7 linked regions of the Homo sapiens genome follow. The protein of the gene in region 5 interacts with the protein of the main gene of each other region in a pairwise test. Each region holds a gene or a part of one and is shown on either strand. Other genes may lie near its edges. The genes, in order: RPIA, FRS3, PNCK, GAB2, PTPN11, SYNCRIP and DDR1.

What was found.
Region 1: the proteins of PTPN11 (region 5) and RPIA interact in binary tests that used the Homo sapiens proteins (3 or more experiments, as listed by UniProt).
Region 2: the proteins of PTPN11 (region 5) and FRS3 interact in a two-hybrid assay, tested with the Homo sapiens proteins (one study listed by IntAct).
Region 3: the proteins of PTPN11 (region 5) and PNCK interact in a two-hybrid assay, tested with the Homo sapiens proteins (one large-scale study listed by BioGRID and IntAct).
Region 4: the proteins of PTPN11 (region 5) and GAB2 interact in binary tests that used the Homo sapiens proteins (3 or more experiments, as listed by UniProt).
Region 6: the proteins of PTPN11 (region 5) and SYNCRIP interact in a two-hybrid assay, tested with the Homo sapiens proteins (one study listed by BioGRID).
Region 7: the proteins of PTPN11 (region 5) and DDR1 interact in binary tests that used the Homo sapiens proteins (3 or more experiments, as listed by UniProt).

Annotation. Positions count from the first base shown.
Region 1 is NC_000002.12:88,690,210-88,694,472, reverse strand, and holds the start of RPIA (ribose-5-phosphate isomerase), read right to left. Parts: upstream 2,801-4,263; 5' UTR 2,775-2,800; coding exon 2,490-2,774; intron 1-2,489. UniProt on the Homo sapiens protein: Catalyzes the reversible conversion of ribose-5-phosphate to ribulose 5-phosphate and participates in the first step of the non-oxidative branch of the pentose phosphate pathway.
Region 2 is NC_000006.12:41,777,101-41,781,189, reverse strand, and holds the start of FRS3 (fibroblast growth factor receptor substrate 3), read left to right. Parts: upstream 1-1,289; 5' UTR 1,290-1,374; intron 1,375-1,517; exon of another isoform or gene 1,518-2,460; intron 2,461-3,013; 5' UTR 3,014-3,157; intron 3,158-4,089. UniProt on the Homo sapiens protein: Adapter protein that links FGF and NGF receptors to downstream signaling pathways. Involved in the activation of MAP kinases. Down-regulates ERK2 signaling by interfering with the phosphorylation and nuclear translocation of ERK2.
Region 3 is NC_000023.11:153,671,014-153,675,101, forward strand, and holds the start of PNCK (calcium/calmodulin-dependent protein kinase type 1B), read right to left. Parts: upstream 2,801-4,088; 5' UTR 2,767-2,800; intron 2,672-2,766; exon of another isoform or gene 2,504-2,671; intron 2,372-2,503; exon of another isoform or gene 2,287-2,371; intron 2,276-2,286; exon of another isoform or gene 2,258-2,275; coding exon of another isoform or gene 2,209-2,257; intron 2,066-2,208; coding exon of another isoform or gene 2,064-2,065; coding exon 1,996-2,063; intron 1,685-1,995; coding exon 1,553-1,684; intron 1,188-1,552; coding exon 1,113-1,187; intron 1,006-1,112; coding exon 867-1,005; intron 660-866; coding exon 536-659; coding exon of another isoform or gene 408-535; exon of another isoform or gene 348-407; coding exon 272-347; intron 178-271; coding exon 65-177; intron 1-64. UniProt on the Homo sapiens protein: Calcium/calmodulin-dependent protein kinase belonging to a proposed calcium-triggered signaling cascade. In vitro phosphorylates CREB1 and SYN1/synapsin I. Phosphorylates and activates CAMK1.
Region 4 is NC_000011.10:78,218,821-78,222,320, forward strand, and holds part of GAB2 (GRB2-associated-binding protein 2), read right to left. Parts: exon of another isoform or gene 3,376-3,500; coding exon 3,285-3,375; exon of another isoform or gene 2,960-3,284; coding exon 2,857-2,959; exon of another isoform or gene 1,969-2,856; intron 1,625-1,968; coding exon 1,499-1,624; intron 596-1,498; coding exon 452-595; 3' UTR 1-451. UniProt on the Homo sapiens protein: Adapter protein which acts downstream of several membrane receptors including cytokine, antigen, hormone, cell matrix and growth factor receptors to regulate multiple signaling pathways.
Region 5 is NC_000012.12:112,417,493-112,421,746, reverse strand, and holds the start of PTPN11 (tyrosine-protein phosphatase non-receptor type 11), read right to left. Parts: upstream 2,801-4,254; 5' UTR 2,636-2,800; coding exon 2,622-2,635; intron 1-2,621. UniProt on the Homo sapiens protein: Acts downstream of various receptor and cytoplasmic protein tyrosine kinases to participate in the signal transduction from the cell surface to the nucleus. Positively regulates MAPK signal transduction pathway. Dephosphorylates GAB1, ARHGAP35 and EGFR.
Region 6 is NC_000006.12:85,632,887-85,636,386, forward strand, and holds part of SYNCRIP (heterogeneous nuclear ribonucleoprotein Q), read right to left. Parts: intron 1-3,500. UniProt on the Homo sapiens protein: Heterogenous nuclear ribonucleoprotein (hnRNP) implicated in mRNA processing mechanisms. Component of the CRD-mediated complex that promotes MYC mRNA stability.
Region 7 is NC_000006.12:30,897,588-30,900,656, reverse strand, and holds the end of DDR1 (epithelial discoidin domain-containing receptor 1 isoform 2 precursor), read right to left. Parts: coding exon 3,060-3,069; intron 2,585-3,059; coding exon 2,350-2,584; intron 1,770-2,349; coding exon 1,620-1,769; intron 1,502-1,619; coding exon 1,361-1,501; 3' UTR 501-1,360; downstream 1-500. UniProt on the Homo sapiens protein: Tyrosine kinase that functions as a cell surface receptor for fibrillar collagen and regulates cell attachment to the extracellular matrix, remodeling of the extracellular matrix, cell migration, differentiation, survival and cell proliferation.

The sequences.
Region 1 (4,263 bases), on a different chromosome or scaffold from region 5:
CTCTAGCTTTACAGTAATTCAATCACCAAATTCCTGGTTACCAAGCTTAGCCATACATTCATGTCACTCACAGTCCCCAGCAGGCAGGTGGCACAGAGGTGAATTCGGATGAATCAGACAAGCTCTGTATAAGGCTCGTTCTTTGCCTTTTGAAAGAGACCAGGAATTGCAAGGCCCTGCCAGACCTAAAGCTCTTCACCCATGTGATCCCTGCTGCCTTGGAATCAAATGACTGGCCCAGGAAATCAGTGCCCTTGCCAAAGCCAACCAGAGGTGACCAAAGGCTGCCTATGAGGTGGCCCAACAGCAGAAGACTGCCAAGCAGGCCCTGCTAGAGGAGTGGCCCCATTCTAATGGGCAATATTAAACCACATGTATGTGCAACATCAGAACTTCACTCAGCTTGTCGAATGGAGTAACTTTGGAAATACTACTTCTGCTAACCAACTAGAACCACTGCCCATCAGCTTCCTCAACCAAGCTAGTAAAAAAACAAAGCCCAGGCTCCAAAGAGAACAAAGGGATGAGGCTACAGACATTCAGAAGAGCCTAGTTCTGCATGTCGACCCATCCTGGGTGGCTACACCCACAGAAACAGACAGAGCTGGGCCCAAGGTGGCTATACAAAGGATTCACCTGAGAACTCTCCATGTTTTCCATCCACTCAGACACGGAAGTGGTCACCATATTGGAACTCCAATGGACTAGAGAACAGGAAGCCCTACTCCCCAGAGATTCTACACAAAGAACCTCCAATAACCCCAACACTTTCGTATTTGTGTCCACACTGCACACAATTGAACAAACATGTACTGGGCAGGACCCACTGTGACCAATGCTAAATGAAGGTTAACTACCCTCCAGGAGCTTACCCTTTAAGGGGCTGGAAGAAACGAACACACAGATGACCAAAACATGAGATACAACATAAAGCACATAAGAGGCATGAAGTGCTACAGAATCACGGAAGAGAAATCTTCCTCTCCTTAGGATGCTAAGGAAAAACTGAAAGGAGGAAATGGCCTTTAAGCCAAACCCTGAAGGGCATATATGATTTTAACAGGTGCCCCCAAAAGGTCACTGTAGATCTCCCCAAAATTACCTAACTTCATGAAATGATGTGGTCAGAATCCAGTGTTTTGGGGCTCTAGCCTAAGGTCAGGGCTTGCAGATTTTTATTTAATCAAATACATGACTATAACACAAAGGTCAGGGAGATGCGCCACCAAATATTAATGTAAATTCATTAACAGGACAACTTAGATATGGGGCTTTTCTAATTGTATTCTCATGTGGATTACATTTATCTATTAGCTATTCACTGTATGCAGATATTTTGAAATTTCAGCTTATTGTCTCAATTTTACAACGGAGGCACTGAATCCCAAAGGTAGGGTCAAATTAACACATTTTACATTATCTCTGTTAATCCCCATAGAAAATCCTATTGCCAATCAGACTTACAACAAGCTACACCAGAACAGGGTAGCAGTGGAAAGAGTAGAAGGTCACACTGGAACATCCCTTCTACAGAACTGGCTGAGCCACAGGTTACCACATTGTCCACTCCCACTCAAACAGGCTGTGGTGAAGCTCATCCAACATCATCTAAGCAAAATAATTTTGTAAAGCATTAACAAATGTAAAGAACTATTATCGGAGAAGAAAAGAGACTCTAATACCACTTTCTAATAAGTAGAAACGAGAGATAAAAAGCCAATAAGACCAAGGAAACTACACCACAGGGCAGACATACTCCACTTGGCTTCCTTATTATAATTAAGATACTTGATTGGTGACAGCAAAACCACTTGGATTAAAAAAACTCCACTAACAGCACCACACCTGCCACTTAACAAACAAGTAGGGACCACGACCTGACTGAATAACAGCTAAACATCTCTGCAGACCCGCCTTAAAAAATAAACCAGCATCCTCCAGACTTAGTCCACCCAGCCCTATGGAAAGAAGGAAGTTTGAAGCCCCGGGTCTTCCCTTCCCTCCAAGAGTACACTCAGGGGCCGGCGCGCACCAAGCCCAGAACCTCCTTCGACTGAAATTTCAAAGCACTAGCAAACCAACTCTCCGCCGGCTTCCGGGTCAGTAAAGAGAAATGAAAACCTCTCCGCAGCCCCAAAGCCCACCATTTTCCATTTATTGATAAGGAGGCCACAAGGCAAGTGCCTCTAGCCCCCATTCCAAACATCAGACAGCACCAGGCTCCACTTTGCAAACTGTTCCAGCTGGACAAGGAGTCTTTAGAAAGCTCAAGTATTAGAAGATTCGCCCCCAACCGATTCCACATCTAAAAGGTCTTTAAGGAGCAGGGAAGAGGGGTCTAAACTCGGGTAAAGTGCACACCCTCTACCCTCTCACTCAGCTCCCGCCCTGCCAGGAGCTAGGCGCGCCCCGGCAGCACCCACAACGCGCAACAGTAGCCCATCACGCCAAGGACATGCGCCCCGCGCCCCACGTTTCGAAGTGCTCACCCTCACGTGGTTCTCCACAGCCGCGCGGCCCGCCAGCTTCTTGGCCTCCTCGGCCTTGGACATCGTGGAGGGGGCCGGGCAGATGCTGTTGGAGTCCCCGCAGCTGGTGCTTGTGTTGCCAGCACCGCCACGGGTCCCAGACTGTGCACGCCCCGGCAGCCGCACGTGGGAACCCGGGAGGTCCCAGCTGTTCCCTCCTCCGCCGGAGGCCGCGCCCCCGGCCCTCCCGGGCAGCGGGGCCAAGACCCGCCCGTAGAGGGTGCTGAAGGGCCCGGGGCGCTGCATCCCGACGCCTCGCTCCGGCCTCCGCTGAAGTCCCGCCCCCGGCTCCCCCGGAAATCTGGTCGCTTACGCACACAGTCTGCGTGCCCTGCTGCGCGGGTCTTGCTGGGAAATGTAGTTCTGTGGCTTCGAGGAACCCCTATCTGCGCCTCAGTCTGGACTACCAATCCCATAATGCTCTCCGCGACGGAATGCGCAATCGCCGGCGACGGGCTCCGGCACTTCGCTCTGTGAAGTACCATTAGCCGCGGGAATATCAGTATGGTGACTCCTTACCCTGGGGAAGTGTACTTAGGCCACGGCTAGGTGAAGCCCAGGGATATTTCTGTTCGCCCATGCATCCGAGAAAGGAGTGTTAGACCTGACCCTGTTGTTTCTCCCAGCAGTGAGAACGTGGCCATGGACAAGAATTCCAAGTAGTGGCACTTCTGTAGACGACGCGGCCCTTTTGGGGTTACTACAGCCCAGGAAACTCACATGCGACACGGCGCCAGCTGAAGTCCATCTAGACCCCCGCAGACCCAAGGTCACAAGTTGAGAACCCCCTGCCGTGGACATTCTTCTGCACCTAGTGGTGAAGCAGGTGGAGCTGCACCTTGCTCCGCCCATTTGGAGACTGGTTCTGCACATATGAGTGTGCCCTGCAGCGATCCTGCAATCCTTCGTGACTAACAAGGACTTTCTGTGAAAACAGATTTATCTTTTCTTCTCTACCTTTAAGGTTTCTTGCTGTTGAGAATAGTTAAGGGACGAGGAATTCTTATTGCCCCCATTTTACAGGCAAAGAAACTAATGCTGACCCCAACCTTACCGACCACTTGGAGGTCCCTAAAAACACATGACCTTTGTGTTTCTCGGCTGTTAGTGGAATCCTTTCTGTCTGCTCATGAACTCATCTTCAAACGCATTCCAGGCCTTCAGAACTCTTCCGTGAGCGCAAGTCACTGGTATGGGCCACTGTTAACTGCCGGTTATCACCTAGATTTTCTTAACTATGCTTTGCCCTCTGAGGCCGTGAGCTCTTGAATCTTCACCTTAGTCTGTAGGAGGAAAAGTTGTTTGAGATGATATTTGAATCCTTCATTTTAGGCCAAATTCAGAACATAGCAAAAGGTTCTGGCTAACATGCAGAACAGTATGTCTGGACTCCCACTACTGTTGGTCTGCAAAGTTGAAGGCTACTCTAGGCAAATATGTCACCTTTAATGTATCTCCTTAGGAGGAGTCTTTCACCTTATTCATGCTCCTCAGCACCCACACCAAAAGATTCATGAAGTAAATGTTACCTAGTCTCTGCTTTACCCCATTACCCCCGGCCTGAGGACCTTTGAACCATTTTAAATGCTCTACCTGCCAGCCTGGCCATCTGTGCATTGCTTGCTCCATCCACCCTTCTGACTCAGCTGAAATACCACCTTCCCAAAGAAGTCTAAGTGACCACCTCATCTAAATTGGGTTTCCTGCCCACCCCTCCTCTATCACTTTGCGCATG
Region 2 (4,089 bases), on a different chromosome or scaffold from region 5:
CCCCTCCCACCTCAGATAAGGGACAGAGCTGAACCCCTTGTCTTGCCTCCGTGCAGAGCCTCCGTGCAAGAGGGCTCAGGAGCTGGACATCCCCAACACCCGCTGCCCTGAAGGGCAGAGCCCGAGAGGACTTAGGGCTTGGGGAGGTGGAGGGATGGGAAGATTTCTGGGGACAGTGGGAGGGAGAAGGAAGGGGAGTGCCCAGTCCCGCCAACTGCCCTCTCGATAGATCCCCAGAGTTTTTCTGGAACTTGGCGGGCCCGCCTCCGGGGCTGGGACGCGGTGTTTCCCGAGTCCGCTGGGGTTCCCGGTCTGGCTGCTGGGATTTTAGGGGAGGGGACCAGGACTCCGCTGGGGTCTCACCCTCGCTGTGCGTCGCTGTCCGGGCAGTTCTGGACCGACTCTGCCGTCAGGCCCCTCACCCGGTCCCCACCCCAAGGCTTCAGCGCCCGCCCCCGTCCGCCCCCGCCCGCCCTAATAGCGCGGCCCTTCCTCTCCCACGCCCCAGCGGCCCCCGCCCGCCCCTCCCCGGCTGGTGGAGAGGGGCGGCTCAGGGAGGGGCCTGGAGCTGCAGATTGGGGGGAGGAAAAAAAAAAGGAAAACAAAACCACATTTATGGGATCTCAGGGTGGAAATGTGCGGGCTCCATGGCCTCTGCCATGCAGGTGCAAGGGCTCTCTGGCTCGGACTGCGCCCGGCAGGCATCCAGCAGACGCCGGGAGCCGCGTTTACGCTGGGTTTTCAACCATTCGCTGAATGGAAACGCCTCGCCGGGCCCGCAGCCCTGTCTCTCCGCAGTTCCCAGGTCTCCCCAAACTCTCCCTGTGGTCTCCCAGCCCCGCTCCTCCGCGTGTTTCCCTTCAGTTCTCTCCCCCTTGTCCCCAGTGGTCCCCCTGGCCCCTTCCCCTCCCCTCAACCCTCTTCCAGGTTCCATCGTCTTGCCCTTCTCCTTTCAGGTCCCTTCAGACCCTCTCCCCTTCCCTTCGTTTCTCGCCCAACCCTCCGTCCCCTTTCCGCTCCCCGGACCACCCCCAACTTTGGTGTCCTCAGCCCCGCCTCCGCGCCCCGCCTCCGCCGCAGGCTCCGCCCTGTCCCCTCCGGGCTTGCTCAGCCCCTGGCCAGGAGCGCCCTCTGGCGTCTGCGCATGCTCACTGCTCCCGACTGCAAAGTCCTCCAAAGGGACCTTCTAGGCTGCGTGCCGGTCGCCCCCGCTCGGGTCCGCCAGCCCGCAGCGTCTCGTTGGTGCTGCCGGTGACCTCCGACCCCGCGGCCGCGGGGCGGGGCGGGGCGGGGAGGCCTTAGCTCCGGGCGGGCGGCGGCTGCTGCAGCGGGACCCGGGAGCGGGGCCCGGCGCCGCCCGGGCCGCGGGGCGATGTGAGTCGGGGCGCGGCGGGGCGGGGACGAGGCGGCTTCACCGAGGCCGCGCCGCGCCGCGCCGCGCCGCGCCGCAGTCTCCACTCCCTCCCTAGGAAGCCCCGGGCGGGCGGGCAGGCGGCGGAGCACCGGGGCTGGGGGCGGGGATCCGGGGACAGCGCGCACCCAGACCTCCTCATTCCTTACGGGCATGTAGAAATTCCCCTTGACAGTCCTGTAGCCTGTCCTGCAGCCTCTGGCTCCCCCAACCCACCTCTACCCTCTCCGCCCTGGACACATCATCGCATCTCCTGGAGCCCTCAGAACCCCCTCATTCACTCAACAAATCTCCTGCTATGCCCACGGACCCACCATTTCTCTTGGATGCCCCCAAATGCTTCCACTGCCCGGAAATTCCTAGGATCCCTCATATCCCCATTCTCCTTGCACTATCCAAAATGCCCACATCCAAAATTCTTGCTCATGTTTCCCCAAACGTCCTCATACGTTTTCAGCCCCCACACCCCCCTCTCACTCCTGCCCCTGATCCATACCTATCCCAGACCAGAGGCCTCTCCCCATTTCCACTCAATGCAGTCCCTCCTCAGTGGGCTATCTGATACATCCTGATATCTTAAGGAGAAGAGATGGTGATAGGGAAATTCAGCCCCTCCCCCATCTTGCACCCTAGAGTTCTTCGTTTCAGTGCCCGCGCCGTGCCCCCGTCGGTGGCTCAAGCCCCAGTATTTTCCCAGCAACCTATCTTTAGTCTGTGCACACCTCCCTGAGCCTGCTTCTTCCTTCCAGAAAATAAGCCAGACCAAGGGGATGGGGTCCTTTTACCTGGAAGTTGTCCAAGGATGCAGGGTGCAAGGGGCCCTGGGAAGTGTTTCTCCAGAGCAGGAATGTGGGATGTCCAGGGTCTGCAGAGTCCTGGCTTGTTGACTTGTCTACCTTGGGCTCAGATATCCTGAAATTTTGGCTTACTGTTAACATTTATGTTAAAATTAGGCCTTTCAGAGCTTGGGGAGCAGAAAATCTATCAAGCTTCCAAATGCGAAATTGAAGCAGCCTGTCTTGGAAGATGAACATGTCAATTTTAGTGAAGTTTGTCTTACGTTTTTACCTCTGCAAGTTATTTAAGCTAGAAGCTCCCCAGTTTATAGATGGTTCCCCCAAAAACTAAGGCCTTAGGTGGGAGTTGGGGGGGGCGTTGACTTAAGTCTCCCAGATACTTAGTAGCAACAAAACTGACCGATATATTGGTTTCCTGAGTCTTAAACCAGTGCTGTCTCTACTATATCACAGTGTCCTTTTGAGAAAGCTCTTTGTAGAGTTAAAGTTCTCTGCAAAGGTAAGGTGATGGTTTTGGTGTTTGTTGTAACAGGACTCAGAGGGAGATCTAAAGTGACTTAAAAGGTCTTTGGTCGTCTTAGACTTCAAACTTATTGATGTTCTTGGTGTCTGTCCCTCTCAGGGCCCGTGGGGCTTGGGATTTGTGCTCCCTTTGCCCTTGATTTTACTTTCTTCATTGGTGTTTTTGTCCCATTAGGGCTGGAACAGATACCCAGGTGGGATGGACTGTTAGGTCAGTTTTCATTAACAGTTGGGGGTGAAGATAGAAGGTTTTGTTAATCAGTGTCTCTGTTTCCTATGCTAGGTGAGCCCCAGGTGTATCCCAGAGGGATCCGGGTGACTTCTCTGCAGACTGTTTGCCATGACAGCCCACCAAGGACGGGGGGAATAAAGTGGGAACCCTTCCCCATGCCCCTCCCACGGTCAGCTCCCCGATGGCCTGGGTGAGGTAAGAGCTGTGTATAGGGGTCAGTTTTATGGCGTTTCCCAAGTTGGGAGGAACAGAGGGTACAGGTCACCTGGTTGTTCAAAGCTTTACCATTCAGCAGGAGTTCTAGAAGGATAGCCAATCCTACAGACTTATTTCTTGTGACAAGTTGCAACCCCTTAAAACTTCTGCTTGGTATTGGTCCATGCATTTCTTGTTCCCTTAGGTCATTCAAGCTTGGGTGGTGTCCTCTTCATTCTAGGCACAGTCCTGACTATTGTGACATATAATCCAAGTACTGGAATCCTGGAGGGGAAGAGCCAAATAGTAAGGCCTCTGGTCTCCCCTTCAGAAAAAGGGAAGGAAACCCAGCATTTTTTTTAAATGAAGAAATATCCACTTGAGGTTATTAAAACTGCACTGTTTTAAATGTTCAGTCTTCTGAATATATCTTTATGATCACAATGTAACAACTCATTTGAAGAGGACATCAGAAAGATAAATTTGCACTGGATGTTGGGATGGTAGTAAGGGAGAAGAGAGAACTTGGATGAAGTGGAATGGATGAGGTAAAAAGGGAGGAAAAAAGAGACAGGCACAGGCCAAAGTGTCTGAGACCCCCAAGTGACAATTTCTTTGCTGAATCCAAATAAGGGGCTCGGGCTGGCACCCACCTCCATCTGCTGCAGATCACTTCTCCTGGACCCCTACTTTTCTTCCTGCCTGTGTCCCTGCCTTCCTTGTCATTACATGGGTCAGAATCCTACATACTTCTCAAGGTCCAGATCAAATGTTACCTCTGAGAAGCTCTCTCCAGCCCCCCATCGGCATTCATCCTTAACACATTGTAACTTGAATTAACGTTTATCCAATGTGTGTCTGGCCCTGGATTGAGAATGTGAAGTCTTTGAGGGGGGGTCTGTATCACACAGTCTCTTGGACAGAGTAGGTGA
Region 3 (4,088 bases), on a different chromosome or scaffold from region 5:
GGTCAGCCTGTCAGGTCCCCACTCCCTTGCATCACCTCCAAGCACGGGCCAGCCTCAAGCTCACCTGATTCTGAGATGTCATCCCAGAAAGGAGAGTCAAACTCATAGCTGGCCCTCAGGATCTGGCTGAAGAGCTCAGGGTCGCTCTCGTCGTAGAAGGGGGGGTACCCACACAGCCTGGCACCCACAGATGAATCATCCAGCTGTCCCACCCTCCCCAACCCAGCAGGGGCAGGCAGGCAGGAGACAAGCCTTCCCAGCGGTCACTCACAGGATGTAGGAGATGACGCCCAGGGCCCACACATCTACGGCCTTCCCGTAGGGTTTCTGCTCCAAGAGCTCTGGGGCTGGGGGCCAGAGACAGACAGACGCACGCACAGGCACACACGCAGCCATGCCGCTCAGTGTCACTGGCTCGGCCTACTCAAGCCCAGGAATGGCCCACACAAAGGCAACGGGCACAACAGCCTTCCCGGCTGTCTAGGGTCCCCCAGGCCACCCCACTCCCAGCAAGCCTCAGGGTGTCGTCCCTCACCCACATATCCAGGGGTCCCACAGGCGGTGCCTAGCATGTTCCCAGCCTGGATTTTGGAGAGTCCAAAGTCAGAGACCATGATCTTCGAGTCCTCAAAGGGCGTGGCATACAGGAGGTTTTCGGGCTGTGACACACGGACACCGGGAAAAGGGCCAGTCAGTCCTGACGCGGTGCCGGTGCTGGGACAGGATGGGGACTAGGCACTCTCAGGTTCCCCAGAGCCTTGGTGGAGCAGGAGATCAAGAAAGGCCCCAGCCGTGCTCCCGGGAAAACAAAGGCAGGGCCAGGTGGGCAGGTGGGAGGGTGGGGTGCAGAGGCCCCAGCCAGGCACCTTGAGGTCCCGGTGCACGATCCCCAGGCTGTGCAGGTAGGAGACGGCGCCAAGGACCTGACCCACCAGATGGCTGGCATCCTTCTCTGTGTAGGAGCCGCGCTCCATGATGCGGTCAAACAGCTCGCCACCCGTCACCCTGGGGGTGCCAGGGGTTTGGCTGACCCAGGCACTCAGCCTGGCCTTCAGCCCCACTCACTGCTCAGTCCCTCCCCGGCTCCCACAGCCTGCCCAGGCCCTCCTCACAGTTCCATGGCCAGGTAGAGGTGGGAAGGGCTCTCGTGGACATCCTCCAGAGCGACGATGTTGGGGTGACTGATCCTGCAATGGCAAGGAAGCGCCTGTGGGCCAACAGAGTCAAGGGGTGCTCTGTCCTGAGGCCCTGGGGAAAGCCTCCTCCCTCTTCTCTTCCTCCCACCTCTGCTCCCCATTCCCTACCACATGCCACCCCTGCCCGGTCCAGGAAGGCAGAGCTCCAGCCTGAGCCCCGGCCTTCCTTCTAAAGCCCATTTGAAAAGCACAGATCAATATCAACTCACTCCCTTTGCCACAGGGATGTGCAGGCCCAGAGAGAGCACTGCCCCAGGCCTCCCAAAGGTTGGTGGCCAGGCCTGGACTAGAGCCAAGGACTGCTTGCACCCCCCCATCGACCTATGCCCCGTCCCAGGGCCCCGCGAGGTGCGCACCTACGGAGCACTGCGATCTCGTTCTCCACCAGGGCCTCCTTGCCCCGGAGGGCCTTCTTGGGGATGCACTTGAGGGCCACGAGGTGTGCGGAGCCCCGCTCCTGGGCCAGCACCACCTCGGAGAAGGCACCCCTGCCGCAGACGGGGCGGTGGGAGGTGGGAAGGAAGTGGGAAGAGAGGAGAGGCAGGAGGGAGAGAGAGTGGAGCGGGGAGGGCCCCCTGTGAAGGAGATGGGGAGGCCCTACCTGGCCCTGTGCCACCCCCCACCACCACTCACACATGCCATCTCACAGACTCACTCACATTCACACACCCCTACATATTCACACACACACACATCATCTCACACCCACTCGCGTAGTCACACACACATGCCATCTCACACAGGTACACACACACACACACACACACACACACGATCACACACGCGCGCGCACACTCACGAGCCGAGCCTCTCGCGGATCTCGTAGACGCTGCTGATGTCCTCCGTGTGTTTCTTCAGCAGCAGCATGTCTGCAGGGGCAGGGGAGAGGTGATGGGGGTCTCTCCCCGCCCCGCCGGGGGCAAGGGCAGCTTCCTCCTCCACCCCCTGCCAGGCAGGCCTCAGCCATTGCCGCTGCGCGCTCGACCCTCCCCTCCCCCGTCCAGGTCCACACCCCCAGACGGACGCCTCCCAGCGAGGCCACCGCATACACGCCTCCACATCCCAGGCCTACAGCTGCTATCCCACGCACCCTCCCCCGCACCCCGAAGGCGACCAGCGCCTGGATGCTGCCTCTCTGCCTCCACACATCCGGCCGCTTTCCAGAAGGCTCCATGCTCACCCACGCCGTCCCTCCCCCATCCACACATCTACAGCGCCCAAGCCCCCACCCCCGCCTAGACCCGCCACCCATGGCACAGCGCCCACAGGCACCCGCTGCCCAAGCCACCAAGCCGCCCGGGATGCACCTGCGACCCCCGCGCGCAGCCACCTGCCAAGACCGCGGCCACCCACGCGGCCGCAGACGCAGCCCAGCCCTCGGCGCCGCGGAGCAGGGGGACCTGGCAGCCTGGGCCGCCCGCGTCCCGAGCTGCGTGGACCGAGCGCGTGCGGGCAGGGGGCGCGCCAGGCGTGACAGGTGTGCTGCGGACGCGCAAGGCTGCGGCGGCCGCGGGCCGGATCCGGTGCGCCCCCGCCCCGCGCGTCCCCGCGCCCCGGAGCAGGTGCAGACCTGGAGCGGGTGCCGCAGCGTCGTGCCGCGCAGTGGCCGCAGCGCCAAGCCCCCCGCCCGCGCCCCGCCGGCCCCGCCCCCTCCGCGCACGCCCCCGCCAGCCGCCCAAGCACGCAGTGGCCCAGCGCGGCCGCGGCGCCGCAGGGCACCTTGTAAGGCAATCGCCGGGATCCGGCTCGGGTGCCGGCCGCCACCGCCCAGCCCACTGCTCGCTCGCGCCGCCTCCCGGAGCTGCGGCCCGGCTGGGCCGGCCCCAGGGCCTTTGCACCACCGGTGGCTGTCTCCCGGAGAGCTCTTCGGCCACAGGTCGGCAAGGCTCTCTGCCTTCCAGTCTCTGCCTTCACCGCCTCTCCGAGGACAGGCTGACCCGGCCACTTGCCCGAAAGCAGCCTCCATGCCTAGCTCCAGGACCCTGCAACCCTGCACCACAGCTCTGCCACCCTGGGCTCCCGGCACTCACTGGGCTCCCTCTGGCTCCACCATTAATCCCTCACCCTCGCTTTCTTCTCTACCCAGCAGCCAGAGCATTCCTTTTATTGAGATCATGTCACCCTCCTGCAGCTCTCTATGTCAATCCAAGTCAAAGCATGAGTCCTTAGGGGGCGGCCTAACGACTGCCCTGGCCCCTCCTCCTCCACCTCTTCCCCGGCCACACTGGCCTCCTGACGGCCCTAGCCTTTGCTCCCCTGCCTGGAATGTTCTTCGATCAGATATCTGCCTGGCTTGGCTCCTCGTTCCATCAGATCTCGGCTCAAATGTCCCCTCCTCAAACCGGCCTCCCCCGCCCTGCCCCTGCCAATTCTCTCCGCATAACCCTGCCCTGTCTTTAGAACGTCCAACCGCAAAAATCACCTTCTTCGCCTGGTCTTCCTCACCAAAGCGTCCGCTCCCAGAGAGTGTATCTCCGCGAACCCAACCAAGACGAGCCCAGGAAATAAGTGCGGGTGACCGAATTCAATCCTGCATCCAACAGTTACTGGACCCCCCTCGCTGCTCGCCATCCAGTCCCATGAGGTTGTGGCCAGCATCACAAGGGTTCCGTCAAGTGACCGTGGGCCCTGGCATGACACGACGTCTTCAAGAGAGTCCACGGGGCAGGAAGAGTTTTTAAAAAATCATTTTTCCAGACCTCAACTCCCATATATACTCTGTGTAAAAACTGGGAAATCTGAGAAGGCCCCTAGCAGCTCTTGCCCCCTGGCCTTTCCCAGTCACCCCTCCCAGGACACTGCAGAAGGCTCCAGGGACCCCAGCACTCAGAAACTCCAGTCCCACCTGCTCCTCTATGTGAAAATGGTTTCCTGGGACCGACATCTAAAACA
Region 4 (3,500 bases), on a different chromosome or scaffold from region 5:
TGGGTTGGTGAGACTTGTCTTCTGGGACTGAAGGAGAGGTAGCCCAGTGGCCGGAGGGAAGATAGCTGAGGGCTGTGACTGAACGTGAGGTGTGGAATCTGGCTCAGAGCCCCAGCCCTTCCCTCCAAACATCTGGTAGAGAGTCAGGTCTAAAGGACAGGAAGAGGCTGAAGGATGCTTTTTGGAAGTAGCTCCTAACTAAGGTGGGTGGAGGCATGGCCATTACTGATAAAAATCACAGCTGGGCCCCGAGTGGGCAGAGGAGGTGCCTTGATCAGGCCCTCACCTCCCAGGGGAAGGGTTCAGGGTCCCTGATGTCAAGTGCTTTGAAGGCTGAGACTGGCAGAGTAGAGAGGAGGTGGATGGGAGGAAGAACGGGAGAGGGGAGAGGGGAGATGGGAAGGGCCAGCTCTGGAGATGCTGCCTCCTGGGCTCTGCGGTGGCCCTCTCATCACAGCTTGGCACCCTTGGAAGGCTCTGAGGACTGCCGCACGTCTGTCCACTCCTGCATGGTGTTCTGCAGGGCCTGGGTCTTCTCCTTGTCCACCTGAACGTAGTCCACCTTCTCATCAGAGGTGACGGATGAAGTAGATGGCTGAGGGGACAGAGTGGGAAAGAGGGAGTAGCTGTGAGTTACCAGTTAGGTGGGGAGGAAGAAGGTGGGCACGGGATCTTCCTGAGCTGTCTGAAGGGGAGAAGAGCATGGCCTCTGCCTGCCACTGACCAGCCTCAGGAGCCTGGCTTCTCTTTCTGAATGTGGGCTTTAAAGCTCAGACTCCAAACTCATCATCCCTCCTGCAGGATGTAGCAGCACCTGCCAGCCCTTCTTACTTCCCGGCTTCTGGGAGGACCCAGGCCCTTCCTTGGCCCTGGTGGATGGGTCCAGGCCTTCATCTCTGCCTCCACCCATCTCTGTCAGGTCGCTCATCCAGGGGAAGGAATTTGCTAGGTGCAAACAAACATCAGCCACAGGACTTTACGTGCTGTGCTCACTGCCACCCTGTGAAGGGGAACCATGCTGAGGCACAGCTCTGCACCCTTCTGTCTAGACTGCTTAGCTATAAGGATGCCTCCTGGGGAGGCTTTCCCAGGCCTGGAAGTCCCTTCTGAAGGCTGATGTATCGACGGCAGGGCTCTGGACCCACTCGAGAGCCCAGGACCAGGAGGCAGTATCCTCATTCCTGGATCTGTTGCTGATTCACTTTGTAACCTTAGGACAATCAGATCTCTGTGCACTCATTTGCCCATCTCTACAACACGGGGGATGGGCTGACTGATGAGGTTCTCTGACTGAGGGTACTGTGCTCTGAGAGCAGGAATAGGAGTCTTTAGACCTAGATGAAAGCTCTATGACTAAAGATGCATCATAAAAGCTGGGTACTGGAGCAGGAGGGAGGCTGAGTGCTGCTGTTCAGTGTTGAAGGCACCCTGGCCTCCATGATCTCTGCCTCCGGGACCCTGAGAGCTCTTACTGCCCCCCCAACTCTACTCCAGGCACCTTGCGGTGGGGGCTTGGGGAGCTCGGCTGGAAGTCCAGGGCCAGATAATCAACGCTGCCGGTGCTCTTCTTAGGGGCAGGACTGTTCGTGCCACTGGGAACGGGAGATGCAGACACTGGGTTTTGCTGTCACGAGGAGGAAAAAACTGTGAGTGACTGCAGAAAACAGACTAACCCACCACCCAGAAAAACACCTCTGGGAGTAAGAACACTGTTTCCCTGAGCCCTACTCTGACACATGCACCATGCTAAGGACTTTTCATGTTTTCATTTTAATCCTCATGACAATCCTGTAAGGTAGGTATGATTACTGTTGATACTGTTTAAAGCAAAGATGAAACTGTGGTTCACTTTACTTTCAGAGAAGTGACTTTGCCTGTGGCTGCACAGCTGTTGAGTGATGGGAATCAGGTCTGTTTTCTGACTTCCAAACCTGTGCTAACCCCTGTACCACACTGCCTCCTTTCTAGCACATCAGGCCAAGTCTCATCAACAGTGGCTCTCCTGAGACATCCAGCCTTTGCTTGCTGGCGCTTAAGAAAGGAGCACATTTCCTTTATGCACTGGAAAGTTTTCTTCTGTCGCACCAAATCAGCCCCTGTGAAACTCCCACCTGTGGCCTAGAGTGGGGTAGTCACCCCAAAGCAGCTTGCTCCCCCGCCTAGCTCCTCCAAGATCTGAAGAGGGTGGCTTCATCTCCAGGCTGCACAAGCCCGCATTTCTTCAGATGACACGCTCTAGGATCCTGTCCATCCAGGCTCGTGCTCTAGCAGAGCACCACCTCCTCTAGAACTTTCTGGAAGTCTTATTCTAATGAGAAGGTGATAGTCCTGTGTTCTGTTTGTTGGCTGCTTTACTGGTTGGTTAATTCATTCTTTCACTATCTATGCAGTGACTACCAGGTGCTGGGCAGTTACGCCCTTAATGGAAATCTCAGGGAAGAAATATCCTCCTCTGCCTGTGTTGATAGCTCTATTATGGCCTCACCAAAGTGAGTTATGTGCACGTATGCCTCTCACCACTGAGGAGATACCTCCACCACTGAGGAGATACCTCCAGCACTGCCTATCCAAGGGCACAGATCATGCCACCCATGTCACTGTCATGAGAGGCAGGCCCCTGCTCTTGAAGACCATGACTTCGTTGGGACAGGTCTCATGTCTTCCTTACATCTGATGACAACTCCTACTGCTTGATAAACAGGTGCTCAAGAAGGGTTTGTAGCAGGAGACTAAATCATGAATAATACAAGGAGTCCCTGGGCTGAGGTGAGTTAGCTAAGCTGGGAAGTGGGGAACTGAGGGGTGGGTCCCAGGGGACTTGAAAGGCGTCATTCCAGCGAAGCCCGAAGGACTCACCATAGGGACATAGTTCTCTTCGCTGTCTCCTGAGTCTGTGCTGGTGATGCTCTGGGTGGAGATGGGGCGGCAGTACTGGGAGGAGCTGGAGTTGAAGGTGTGGCTGTTGTGGGAAGGAAGAGTTAACACTGGGGAAGCTGCATGGCTGCTGCCATGTTTCTAGCCTCCAGCTGGGCCCTGACCCTCACACACCCAGACCTCAGCCATTAGAGCTGCACACTCCATCAGATTAAGATCTGATATAGGGCAGGTATAATTATTCTCTTTTACAGCTGAGGAAACCAAGCCACAAGACATCGAGACATGATCAGCTAATGATAGCGTTAGCATCAGAATCCAGCTGTCCCGGCCCACAGGCCAGCTACCACATCACTCATTTTCCCTAATGGCCCGACTCCAAGCTCCCACCCCCACACATACGCACTTACTTGGCCCTAGACCAAGACTTGGTGATAGGTGACTTGAAGGGGAGTTCATCGATGACGGTGTTGTTCCTCAGGTCAAGTGGTGTTGGCTTTGCTGGAGCAGGAAAAGAAAGTCTGGTAATCAGCCAGTAATGATAATGCTACACATACACACCTTATATATAACACATGAGCATGTTTATAAAGGCCTGCAAAGTCATTCCAGTTTCACACAGGGAA
Region 5 (4,254 bases):
CTGAGGAGGGGGGATGGATTGAGCCTAGGAAAACAAGGCTGCAGTGATTGCACCACTGCACTCCAGCCTGGGCAACAAAGTGAGACCCTATCTCAAAAAAACACAATAATAACAATAATAATAAAATTCTAGGGCTGGGCAGGGTGTCTCATGCCTATAATCCCAACACTTCAGGAGGCCAAGGTGAGAGGATCACTTGAACCCAGGAGTTTGAGACTGCCCTGGGCAACACAGTGAGACCCCATCTCTATTCAAACAATTTTAAAATTTTTAAAAATAAAATTCTAGGAAATGCAAACTAATACATAGTGACAGAAAGCAGAATAGTGGCTGCCTAAGAACAAAGGAAGGATTATAAAGAACATAAGGCAAAATTACCAGGGGTGATAGATGTGTTCATTATCTTGACTATGGTGGTGGTTTCCCAAGTGTATATGTATGTCAAAACTGATCAAATTGTACATTTAAATATATGCAATTAATTGCATGTCATTTATACCTCATTAAGGCTGGTTAACAAATAAAACAGGCTTATAATCCAAAAAATAATGAATCATTCAAAATTATGTGTATTATGTTCATAACCCGGCTTTTTGGGTGGTGCATAATACCAGGGCTGGAGGGGAGAAGGAATTACTCCATTTCAAACTGTCATCTTTACCACTTGCTACTTTGACTATGCCCACACTTCTATGCTTCTAAATGAACAAACTGGACAATGTAGGGTCTATTACTACCCAGACCTTTTCCCAACCCCCAGCCCCGTCTGATGTCTCCTAAAGCAGCAGATCCTTACTTGTCTGGAAGAGCAGACACCAGGAACAAAAGGCTCAATGACTATTTGACAGATTAAAGAATAGACAACTGTTTATTTAAAAGCTCCCTAAAGAATTAGAACATTTGAGGCTATACACTGTTCTGTTGAAATGCAGTTATATATTACCCAGATCTGTAAGCACTTGCCAACCGACCTGTCCAAGTCACTCACTTCCTACGAGTTCTCAGTTTTCTTTTTCTCCCCTTTTTAAATTCCAGATCCATGTATGAATAACATGCCAGGTGTGTTTGGAGGAGACATTCCTAATATTTTGAAAAATCTCATTCAGGCTGGGTACGGTGGCTCACGCCTGTAATTCCAGCACTTTGGGAGGCCAAGGCGGGCGGATCACGAGGTCAGGAGTTTGAGACCAGCCTGGCCAACATAGTGAAACCCTGTCTCTACTAAAAATACAAAAATTAGCCGGGCATAGTGGTGCGCCTGTAGTCCTAGTTACTTGGGAGGCTGAGGCAGGAGAATCGCTTGAACCTAGGAGGCGGAGATTGTGGTGAGCCGAGATTGCGCCACTGCACTCCAGCCTGGGCAACAGAGTGAGCCTCCGTCTCCAAAAAAAAAAAGAAAAAAAGAAAAGAAAATCTCATTCAAATAGCCTCAATAGCTTGAATCGTTTTTTAAATGTCTGAGACAGTGACCATAATTGAACAATCATGGAAAAGAATAGACAATGGGTCTTAAGTGTGAGTGGTATATAGAGTGACTATACAAAATAGCAGGATCACTATCTGAAAACAACAGGTCACACTACTGTTTGACAACAAAATTAAGGCTTACAAATGGTTAGCAATAGTTACAAAATAATAGAAGCAACATAGTGATTAAAAGTAGGGATTCTGTCTCCACCACCTACTAGCTGTGAGGTTAGGCAATTTACTTAACCTCTGAAACTCGGTTTACTCATCTTTACAATGGGGATAATAGTAGCCATCTGATAGGGCTGTGGTCAGAACTAAGCAAATGTTAGCTATTAGTAGTAGTATTACCCTGACCTTTCAAAGGATCTCATTAACTCACTAATCCTCCTAAGTTTCAAATCTTGTCATTTACTAGCATGTTGCTTCTGGGCCTCGGTTTCCTCATCCATAAAACGGGTACCAGTAAAGTGACCTGACTGTTAAGGTTGCAGTGAAGGATTAAATAACGAGATGCGGCTCCCTTCCTTTCCATCTCCCAAAGCGAAGATCGCAGAGGAAGGAAATACTTCTAGTGGCTGCAGATACAGTCAGTTTTTCCATTTCTGGCACGTGAGGGGTAGGAGGAAAAGAAGACACAAAGAGGCATATAAAAGGGTCAGGGGTCCTGCGTGAAGTCCCCAAATGCACGAAAGTGGCACAGTGAGCCAGAACGACTAGACCACTGGGGGCCCGGCCCCGCGCAACTCCCCTCTCGTGTCCCAAGGAGCCTCCCCAAGTGAGCAGGGTTATTTCGGAATCACCATGAGGCAATTCTCATGAGGCAATGGGTCAGGAATGCGGCGCTGAGCCTGGCCGCTGGCACCCGTGGTTCCCTCGGCGGCTCTACCTGCCCCGGGCCTGACGGGCATCCCCGGGGCTGCCGCAGCCGGAACTCGGGGAGGCAGGAAATGAATGGGGACCCGAGGGGTGGGGGCGCGGTGGGGCCGGCCCCCGGCCCCTGGAGGGCGAGGGGACGAGGAGGGAACCGGCCCCCAACCCCGACCCGGGGCGGGAGCCCGAAGCCCGGCCGGGGCGCCCCCTTCCGGACGGGGCTAACCGAACGCGGCGGTGGCCGGGCCGAGGCCCGCGCCGGGCCCCTCGGGGCTCCTCACCTCCGCGATGTCATGTTCCTCCCGCCCTCCGGCTCCGCGACGGACCCGCTCCTTGCTCAGGCTCCGCTGGGCTCGGTCACATCGGGCTGGCCCGAGGGAGGCCCGCTCGGGACCGGACGCGGGGCAGAGCCAGCCGGCCGCGCACAGACCCCCCTCCAGGCCTGGGGATCCCGGAGACTGTGCAGCTGCCCCCCGGCCCGGCTCGCTCCTCCTCCGCCCCCGCCCTTCGCCGCCGTCGCCCCCGTGATGTCACCGCTCGCGACGCCCGCCGCCACTTCCTGCTTCCCGTCAGCGGAGGACCGAGCGACGGCCGGGAATGGCAGCGCGGGGGCTCCGCGGAGGCGCCACGCACAGTGTCCAAAGCATCCTTGCTTCCTCCTGGAAACCGCGGCCGCCAGGTGTGAGCTGCGCGCTCCGCGTCTACGCCACCGACCCGTCCGGGCCCGCTGCCACATCGATTTCATTCATTTCGTTCCACAAATCGCCGCTCCACTCATTAGCTGTGGAACCTTGGGGAAATTACCTACTGTCTCCGAGCCTCGGTTTCCTCCATTCTTTTCTTTCTGTAAGATAAAGATAGTAGGCTGGGCGCGGTGGTTCACGCCCGTAATCCCAACACTTTGGGAGGCTGCGGCAAGAGGTTCGCTTAAGCCAAGGAGTTCGAGGCCAGCCTGGGCAAAAAAGCAAGACCTCATCTCTACAAAAAATGCAAAAAACTAACCGGGCGTGGAGGCTGCGGCGGGAAGATAACTTAAGCCCGAGAAGTCGGGGCTGCAGTGAGTCGTGATCACGCCACTGCACTACACCCTGAGCGACAGGGCAAGACACTGCCTAAAAAAATAATAATAGGCTGGGCGCGGTGGCTCACGCCTGTAATCCCAGCACTTTGGGAGGCCGAGGTGGGCGGATCACGAGGTCAAGAGATCGAGACCATCCTGGCCAACATGGTGAAACCCCGTCTCCACTAAAAATTCAAGAATTAGCCTGGCGTGGTGGGGGGCGCCTGTAGTCCCAGCTGCTTGGGAGTCTGAAGCAGGAGAATCGCTTGAACCCGGGAGGCAGAGGTTGCATTGAGCCGAGATCGCGCCACTGCACTCCAGCCTGGCAATAGAGCGAGACTCCGTCTCAAAATAATAATAATAATTACAATAAATACTACTTTGGGGTGGGAGCGGTGGCACACGCCTGAAATCCCAGCACTTCCCTTTGGGAGGCTGAGGCGGGCGAATCGCTTGAGTCCAGGAGTTGGGAACCAGCCCGGGCAAAATAGTGAAATCCCATCTCTACAAAAAATACAAAAATTAGCCGGGCGTGGTGGCGCGCGCCTGTAGTCCCAGCTACTCGGGAGGCTGAGGTGAGAGGATTGCTTGAGCCTGGAAGGTCGAGGCTGCTGAAAGCCGAGATCGCGCCACTGCACTCAGGCCAGGTATGGTGGCTCACGCCTTCATCCCAGAACTTTGGGAGGCTGAGGCAGGAGGATTGCTTGAGCCTAGGAGTTCAAGACCAGCCTGGGCAACATGGTGCGACCATGTCTCTTAAAAAAAAAAAAAAAAAAAAAAAAAAAAGCCGGGCCGGGTGGTACGGAAGTATTACTTTGGACACTCTGTGAAGCTCGAGCAAGAGAGCAAGGCCA
Region 6 (3,500 bases), on a different chromosome or scaffold from region 5:
ATCATGACACTGCACTCCAGCAAGGGCAACAGAGTGACAACCTGTCTCCGAAAACAGTAATAATAATTAAAACCGTTTACTTAAGGCCGGGCGCGGTGGCTCACACCTGTAATCCCAGCACTTTGGGAAGCCAAGGCGGGTGAATCACAAGGTCAAGAGATCGAGACCATCCTGGCTAACACGGTGAAACCCTGTCTCTACTAAAAAAATACAAAAAAAATTAGCTGGGTGTGGTGGTGGGTGCCTGTAGTACCAGCTACTCAGGAGGCTGAGGCAGGAGAATGGCGTGAACCCGGGAGGCAGAGCTTGCAGTGAGCCGAGATTGCACCACTGCACTCCAGCCTGGGCAACAGAGTGAGACTCCATCTCAAAAACAAATAAATAAATAAATAAATAAATAAATAAAATAAACAATTTACTTAAAAGTAGGCTGGGTGTGGTGGCTCACACCTGTACTCCCAGCACTTTGGGAAGCCGAGGCCGAGACTGGGGTCAGGAGTTTGAGACCAGCCTGGCCAACAGGGTGAAACCCCATCTCTACTAAAAATACAAAAATCAGTAGGGCATGGTGGTGTGCACCTGTAATCCCAGCTACTCAGGGGGCTGAAACAGAAGAATCACTTGAACCCAGAAGGCAGAGGTTGCAGTGAGTTGAGATCACACCACTGCACCCCAGCCTGGGCAACAGAGGGAGACTCCGTTTCAAAAAAACTTACTAAAAAGTCAAAAAAAGCAAATGATGGTATGACCAATATATCCTACTGGCTGTATACCAATACCTACCATTGGAAATTTTTTTTTTCCCCCTTTTTGGTTTTTTGAGACAGGGTCTCTGTTGCCCAGGCTGGAGTGCAGTGGCATGATCACAGGTCATTGCAGCCTTGACCTCCTGGGACCACAGGTGCACGCTGCCTGGCTAATCTGTTACTTTTTGGTACAGATGGGGTCTATGTTTCCCAGGCTGGTTTCAATCAATCCTTGCACCTCAGCCTACCAAAGTGCTGGGACTACAGGTGTGAGCAACCACACCCTGCCAAAAGTATCTTTTAAAAGACAACAAAATGCAAAGTCTCCTATTAATTAGATAGTACAAAATAATTATGCCCCCAGAAAAGGATTCAAATCACAACAGAGAAACCCAGAAAGAAATGTAGAAAGTTTTAGGACAAGGGTTAATTCCTACGCCAATCAAAAAGAATGCTTATCTATAGAAGTTTCTCCATTATATTTAAAAACTATATTAATAAGACTATATTCTAAGCAACCTACAGCAATGCAATTTTATAATTTAACGTATTTATTAAACAAGGCAATTGTACAAATGGAAACATTTCCTAGTGTCTACTGGCACTCGAAATCACTGTTACTAATGGATTATAAACCATCTTCCTCTAATGATGTATCTTTACTGTAAAGTTTCTGGAAAACATCTATAAATAAGTTATAGTGGTCACCTACCATAATTGGTACATTTTGACGGCAAGAATTAGGTAACCTACGATGTCAGTTTAATGATTCTTTTTCATAATGTTAAAAAATGGATGACACCACTAGCTAAATTCTGCAGTGGTCCCTCAGCACATACGGGGGACTGATTCCAGGAACCCATACCAAAATCCATGAATGCTCAACTCTCTTAAATAGCATAGTGTTTGCACATAACCTACGAACATTCTCTCATACACTGGTGTGTTGTTTTTTTTTTTTATTGGGTTTTTTGGGAGTATCTTCAATCCTCAGCTAGCTGAAACTGTGAATGCAGGACCCACAGTAGAGAGAGCCCACTGTATTAGCTTTCTGTAGTTATGATACCTCATTGCTTACTGGATCATTCTGCATTTTCACTTACTGCTACTTTATTGCTACTTGGCAAAAATATTCTACTCTTTTATAGGAGATTAAAGGATTTTGGGACAGGCAAGGTGGCTCATGCCAGTAATCCTTGCACTTTGGGAAGCCGAGGTAGGAGGACTGCTTGAGACCATGAGTTCAAGACCAACCTGCCAGGCACAGTGGCTCATGCCTGTCATCCCAGCACTTTGGGAGGCCAAGGCGGGCAGATTACTTGAGGTCTGGAGTTCAAGACCGGCCTGGCCAACATAACCCCATCTCTACCAAATATACAAAAATTAGTCAGGTGTGGTGGTACGCGCCTATTATCCCAGCTACTCGGGTGGCTGAGGCAGGAGAATTGCCTGAGCCCAGGAGGCAGAGATTACAGTGAGCCAAGATCATGCCCACACACTCCAGCGTGGGTGACAGAGACTTTGTCTCAAAAAACAAATCATAAAAACAAACTAAAGGATTTCTAAGGTACCTCTTTCTAGAGCTCTAAAATGCCCCTCCCCTCAAATTGAACTGCTGAAACTAAAATTTTGACAACTCAAAGGTTACCAGTAAATCTGAATTCCCTCTAAAACACAAAGCACTCTTTTATGAAGAGAAAAATCAGACATGATTTGAAAATATCTAAATTCTCAAATTCTCTTTGTAAAGGCTTATATTCTTTCAAGTAACATAATTTTGTACTGTTTAACTTCCATCATACTCAATTATGCAAACCAGTGGGGAATATTCACACAACATAGAAAAGGAAGACTTGGCCGGGTGCAGTGGCACACGTCTGCAATCCCAGCACTTTGCGGGGCTGAGGCAGGCATATCTTCTGAGGTCAAGAGTTCATGACCAGCCTGGCCAACATGGTGAAACCCTGTCTCTACTAAAAATACAAAATTTAGCCAGGTGTGGTGATAAATGCCTGTAATCCCAGCTACCGGAGAGGCTGAGGCAGGAGAATCGCTTGAACCTGGGAGGCGGAGGTTGCAGTGAGCCAAGATCGCACCATGGCACTCCTGCTGTCTAGGTGACAGAGTGAGATTCTATCTCCCAAAAAAAAAAAAAAAAAAAAAAAGAAAAGGAAGACTTATGAGTTTTATTTTTCTCTTTAAGGCTTGCTTAAAGTGATAAACCTCATGGTAAAGGAAGGGGTAAAACTCAGGAGGGAGGGAAAAAAAAATGAGTCTGAAGATTTTAAGTTTGTCTGGAATTACCCACAGGATACGTAAGCCAGATAAAGCAAATTTAACAAACATGGCATAGTGAGCTATCTTGTACAAAAGTTCTCCCCAGTCGTGTTGCTTGATACATTCTATGGGTTTAAATTAGCCCCCAACTCTTCAACTATAAAATGCAGAAACCACTTCTGTCACAGAACTTAATAAAACTAGTTTAAAGGACTTACATAAACTATAATTTAAAATATTAAAATTTCTTTCTAGCCAGGCGTGGTGGCTCACGTCTAAAATCCCAGGACTTTGGGAGGCCGAAGCGAGTGGATCACCGGAGGTCAGGAGTTCGAGACCAGCCTGGCCAACATGGCGAAACCCCATCTCTACTAAAAATATAAAAATTAGCCTGAGCGTGGTGGCAGGCGCCTATAATCCTAGCTACTCGGGAGGCTGAGGCAGGAGAATCACTTGAACCTGAGGGGTGGAGGTTGC
Region 7 (3,069 bases), on a different chromosome or scaffold from region 5:
AATTTTTGTATCTTTAGTAGAGATGGGGTTTTGCTATGTTGGCCAGGTTGGTCTCGAACTCCTGGCCTCAAGTGATCTACCCACCTCAGCCTCCCAAAGTGCTGGGATTACAGGGGTGAGCCACTATGCCTGGTCCATTTTATAGGTTTTAAAACCTAATTCTGAGGAGGACTCAGTAGACCTCTACAGACTGCCAAAGGCGTTTATGGCACAAAAAAGGTTCAGCACCCCTGGCCTGACTGCATTCCTTCCAGGCCTCCACCAGAGCACCCCTCTGAGTTGAGAAGGTTCATGCACTCAGACATTCATGCATCTCCTGAGGTCCCACAGGCAAAGGCCTGGATTATCCAGAAACAGAACACAATGCTGGGCAAAACAGGTGATGGGAAATGGAATGAGGAGGCAGGAAAAAAGGAAGATGGGAAGTGGGTTGGGAAGTGGGTTCAGAGGGAGGTGCAGGAGGCAGAGTTACCAAATTCCCAAGGAACCCACTCACACAGTTGTGGAAAACTCAACCTTTATTATTACCTGCCTAGTGCAGGGGATTAAAATTGCCTCAAGCTAGGTCCATATATTAGTGTAAAAATCTGTGTCTCTCCCCCCAAAAATGTACAAACCCCAAGTGATTATAGAAAAATCAATGTGGCAGCTACACTAGAGATGTCCAACCCCAAGGCTATGGGCCGTTGCTCCCTCTTTCCCCCCAATCCCAATATTTACTCCACAGAAACGTATAGGCTTAGAGAAGTTCTAGCTACAAGACTGCAAGTGGGAAGTGGGGGTGACTGAGGGCTGGGGCGGGGCTACCCCCAGGTCCAGTGTTTCAGGTGATGGAGGAGGAAGAAGCCCAAGCTGAGGACAAGTACAGGAGCAGGCACAAGGAAACATTTTCCTCTCCTTCTTGTCCTCCTCACCCCCAGATTCTCAGCCAGTGGGGTCCAGTGTGTGACAGGGAGAGAGAAGCTGGGGGCGCAGCCACCTCTCCAGGAATCAGTGTTGTCCAGTGGGGCCCAGGTGCTCCAATGGGCCATGTCCAGTGTCTATCCTATATTTCTCCCCACCCTTCCCCAAGGGATGGCTAGAGGAGGGTGGAGAGGATCCCATCCACAGGACCAGCTGGGTGGGCGACAGGGGCTTCTAGGAAGGAAGAACAGGAAGGGGACATGAGAGTGTGTCCAGGAAGGGGAGAAGGGGCATCAGCTCCCTGGGTGGGCCCAGCCCACCTGCAGTCTCACTGCCTCTATTAGAGGTGATGGGCTGTCGGGAGGGGAAGGGCAGAGGTGCCATTGTGTCCTCTTGTTTTAGTGTCACTGGCTTCCCCTGGATCGCTCCCTGAGGGAGGGGCAGCTGGATGTGTGATTCACACCGTGTTGAGTGCATCCTCTGCCAGGAACCGATGCAGCTGGGAAAAGGGTGGTCGCTGCTCAGACTCCCGGCTCCAGCACCGAAGCATCAGCTCATATAGGCCCTGCGGGCAGGCAGGCGGCCGGGACAGGTACACCTGCATTGTGGCAGTGTGGATGAGAGTCAGGGAACAAATATTCTTTAGTCTCCAAGATGACAACTCTGCCCCTTCTGTCCCCCGCCTCGGACCCATCTTCCCTCTCCTCCACTCTGACCTGCCGGCCCTGGTCCCGGAAGAACTCCCCCGCGTTCTCGATGACCTGCTCGTCGGTGAGCTGCCCAAAGGGCTGGGCCCTACAGAGCATCAGCACCTCCCACAGGGTCACACCAAAGGCCCACACGTCACTCGCAGTCGTGAACTTCCCCTGGGATGCAGAGAAGGCAGCAAAAACAGACAGGGACATCAGGCAACGTAGACCCTCCTCCCTTCCTATTGGAAGCCCCAGATCCACTCTGGGCTCCACTCAGGCCTGATCCCTCCTGACGCCAGGCTCTCCACTCTCCTCCGCTGGCCACCTTTTCCAACTCCTCTCCCTTGGGCTCTGCCTTTCCTCTCCATGCTCTGGTCCTCTCTCCAGGGCCCTGGCCCACCTCTTCCTTCTGCTCCTCCTTCCTCTCCATCCACCCCCACTTTCTGGTCCTGACCTTCGGTCTCCCTACCCAACCCCTTCTATCTCCAGCTTCCTCGCCCAACCTCATCTCTTGAGCTCTCTGCCACCCTGTCTCCATCCCCAGTACCCACTCTTGGCTCCTGGATTCTTGCCCATCACACTGCAGCTCCTGCTTTCCCCAGTCCCTTGGGCTAGGAGAACCTCATATTATAGATGAGATTCTGTAAAATGCAACCCAGAGAAAGTGTGTGACTGATGGAGACCAGGGCTGTGAGTGGCGGCCAGTGTTCTCCCACCTGCCCTGCTCCAACCTGGCTGTCCTCGGGCTGCTCACCATGAGGATGCACTCCCAGGCCATCCAGCGGATGGGCAGCACTGCCCGGCCCTGCACACGGTAATAGTCCCCAGCATAGAGGTTCCGGCTCATGCCAAAGTCTGCGATTTTGATGGTGAAATTTTCCCCAACTAGGCAGTTCCGCGTGGCCAGGTCCCGATGTACAAAGTTGAGTGTGGCCAGATAGCGCATGCCGGAGGCGATCTGGGCTGCCACATGCAGCAGCATTGGGTAGCTGAGAAGGGAACCGACAGAAGGTCACTGGGGGCAGCTTCGCAGATTCCCATCCAGGAGAGGAGAGAGAGCCCACTCCCCGGGCCCGGTCACTCTGGCTCCCCATGTGGAGGTGGAATGCCCACGTGAGGCCAAGGGTCACTTCCCTCTCAATCTCCCAGGCCTGGCCAACACTAGGGGGCTCTTCTTTTATTGTGCTCCCCAATCTGGACTCAGAGGGGAGTGAGGGTGAGAGAAAGCAGAAGGGACGTCATGGCAGGGCCCAAGTCCCTTCACCACTCTTGCATAGTCACCTCCAGCCTTTCTGTCCATGTTCCTGGGTTAACTTGTCACACATTCCTTATCCCAGGCCCTCCTGGAACCTCTCTCCCTTCCCACCCCCACGCTCCCCTCTTTTCCTCCAGGCTGAAGCGAGGGGAGAGGAGGAGATCCCCTGGGGGAATTCTGAGCAAGGCCCAGCCTGGGTAAGCAGGTACCTGATGGTGG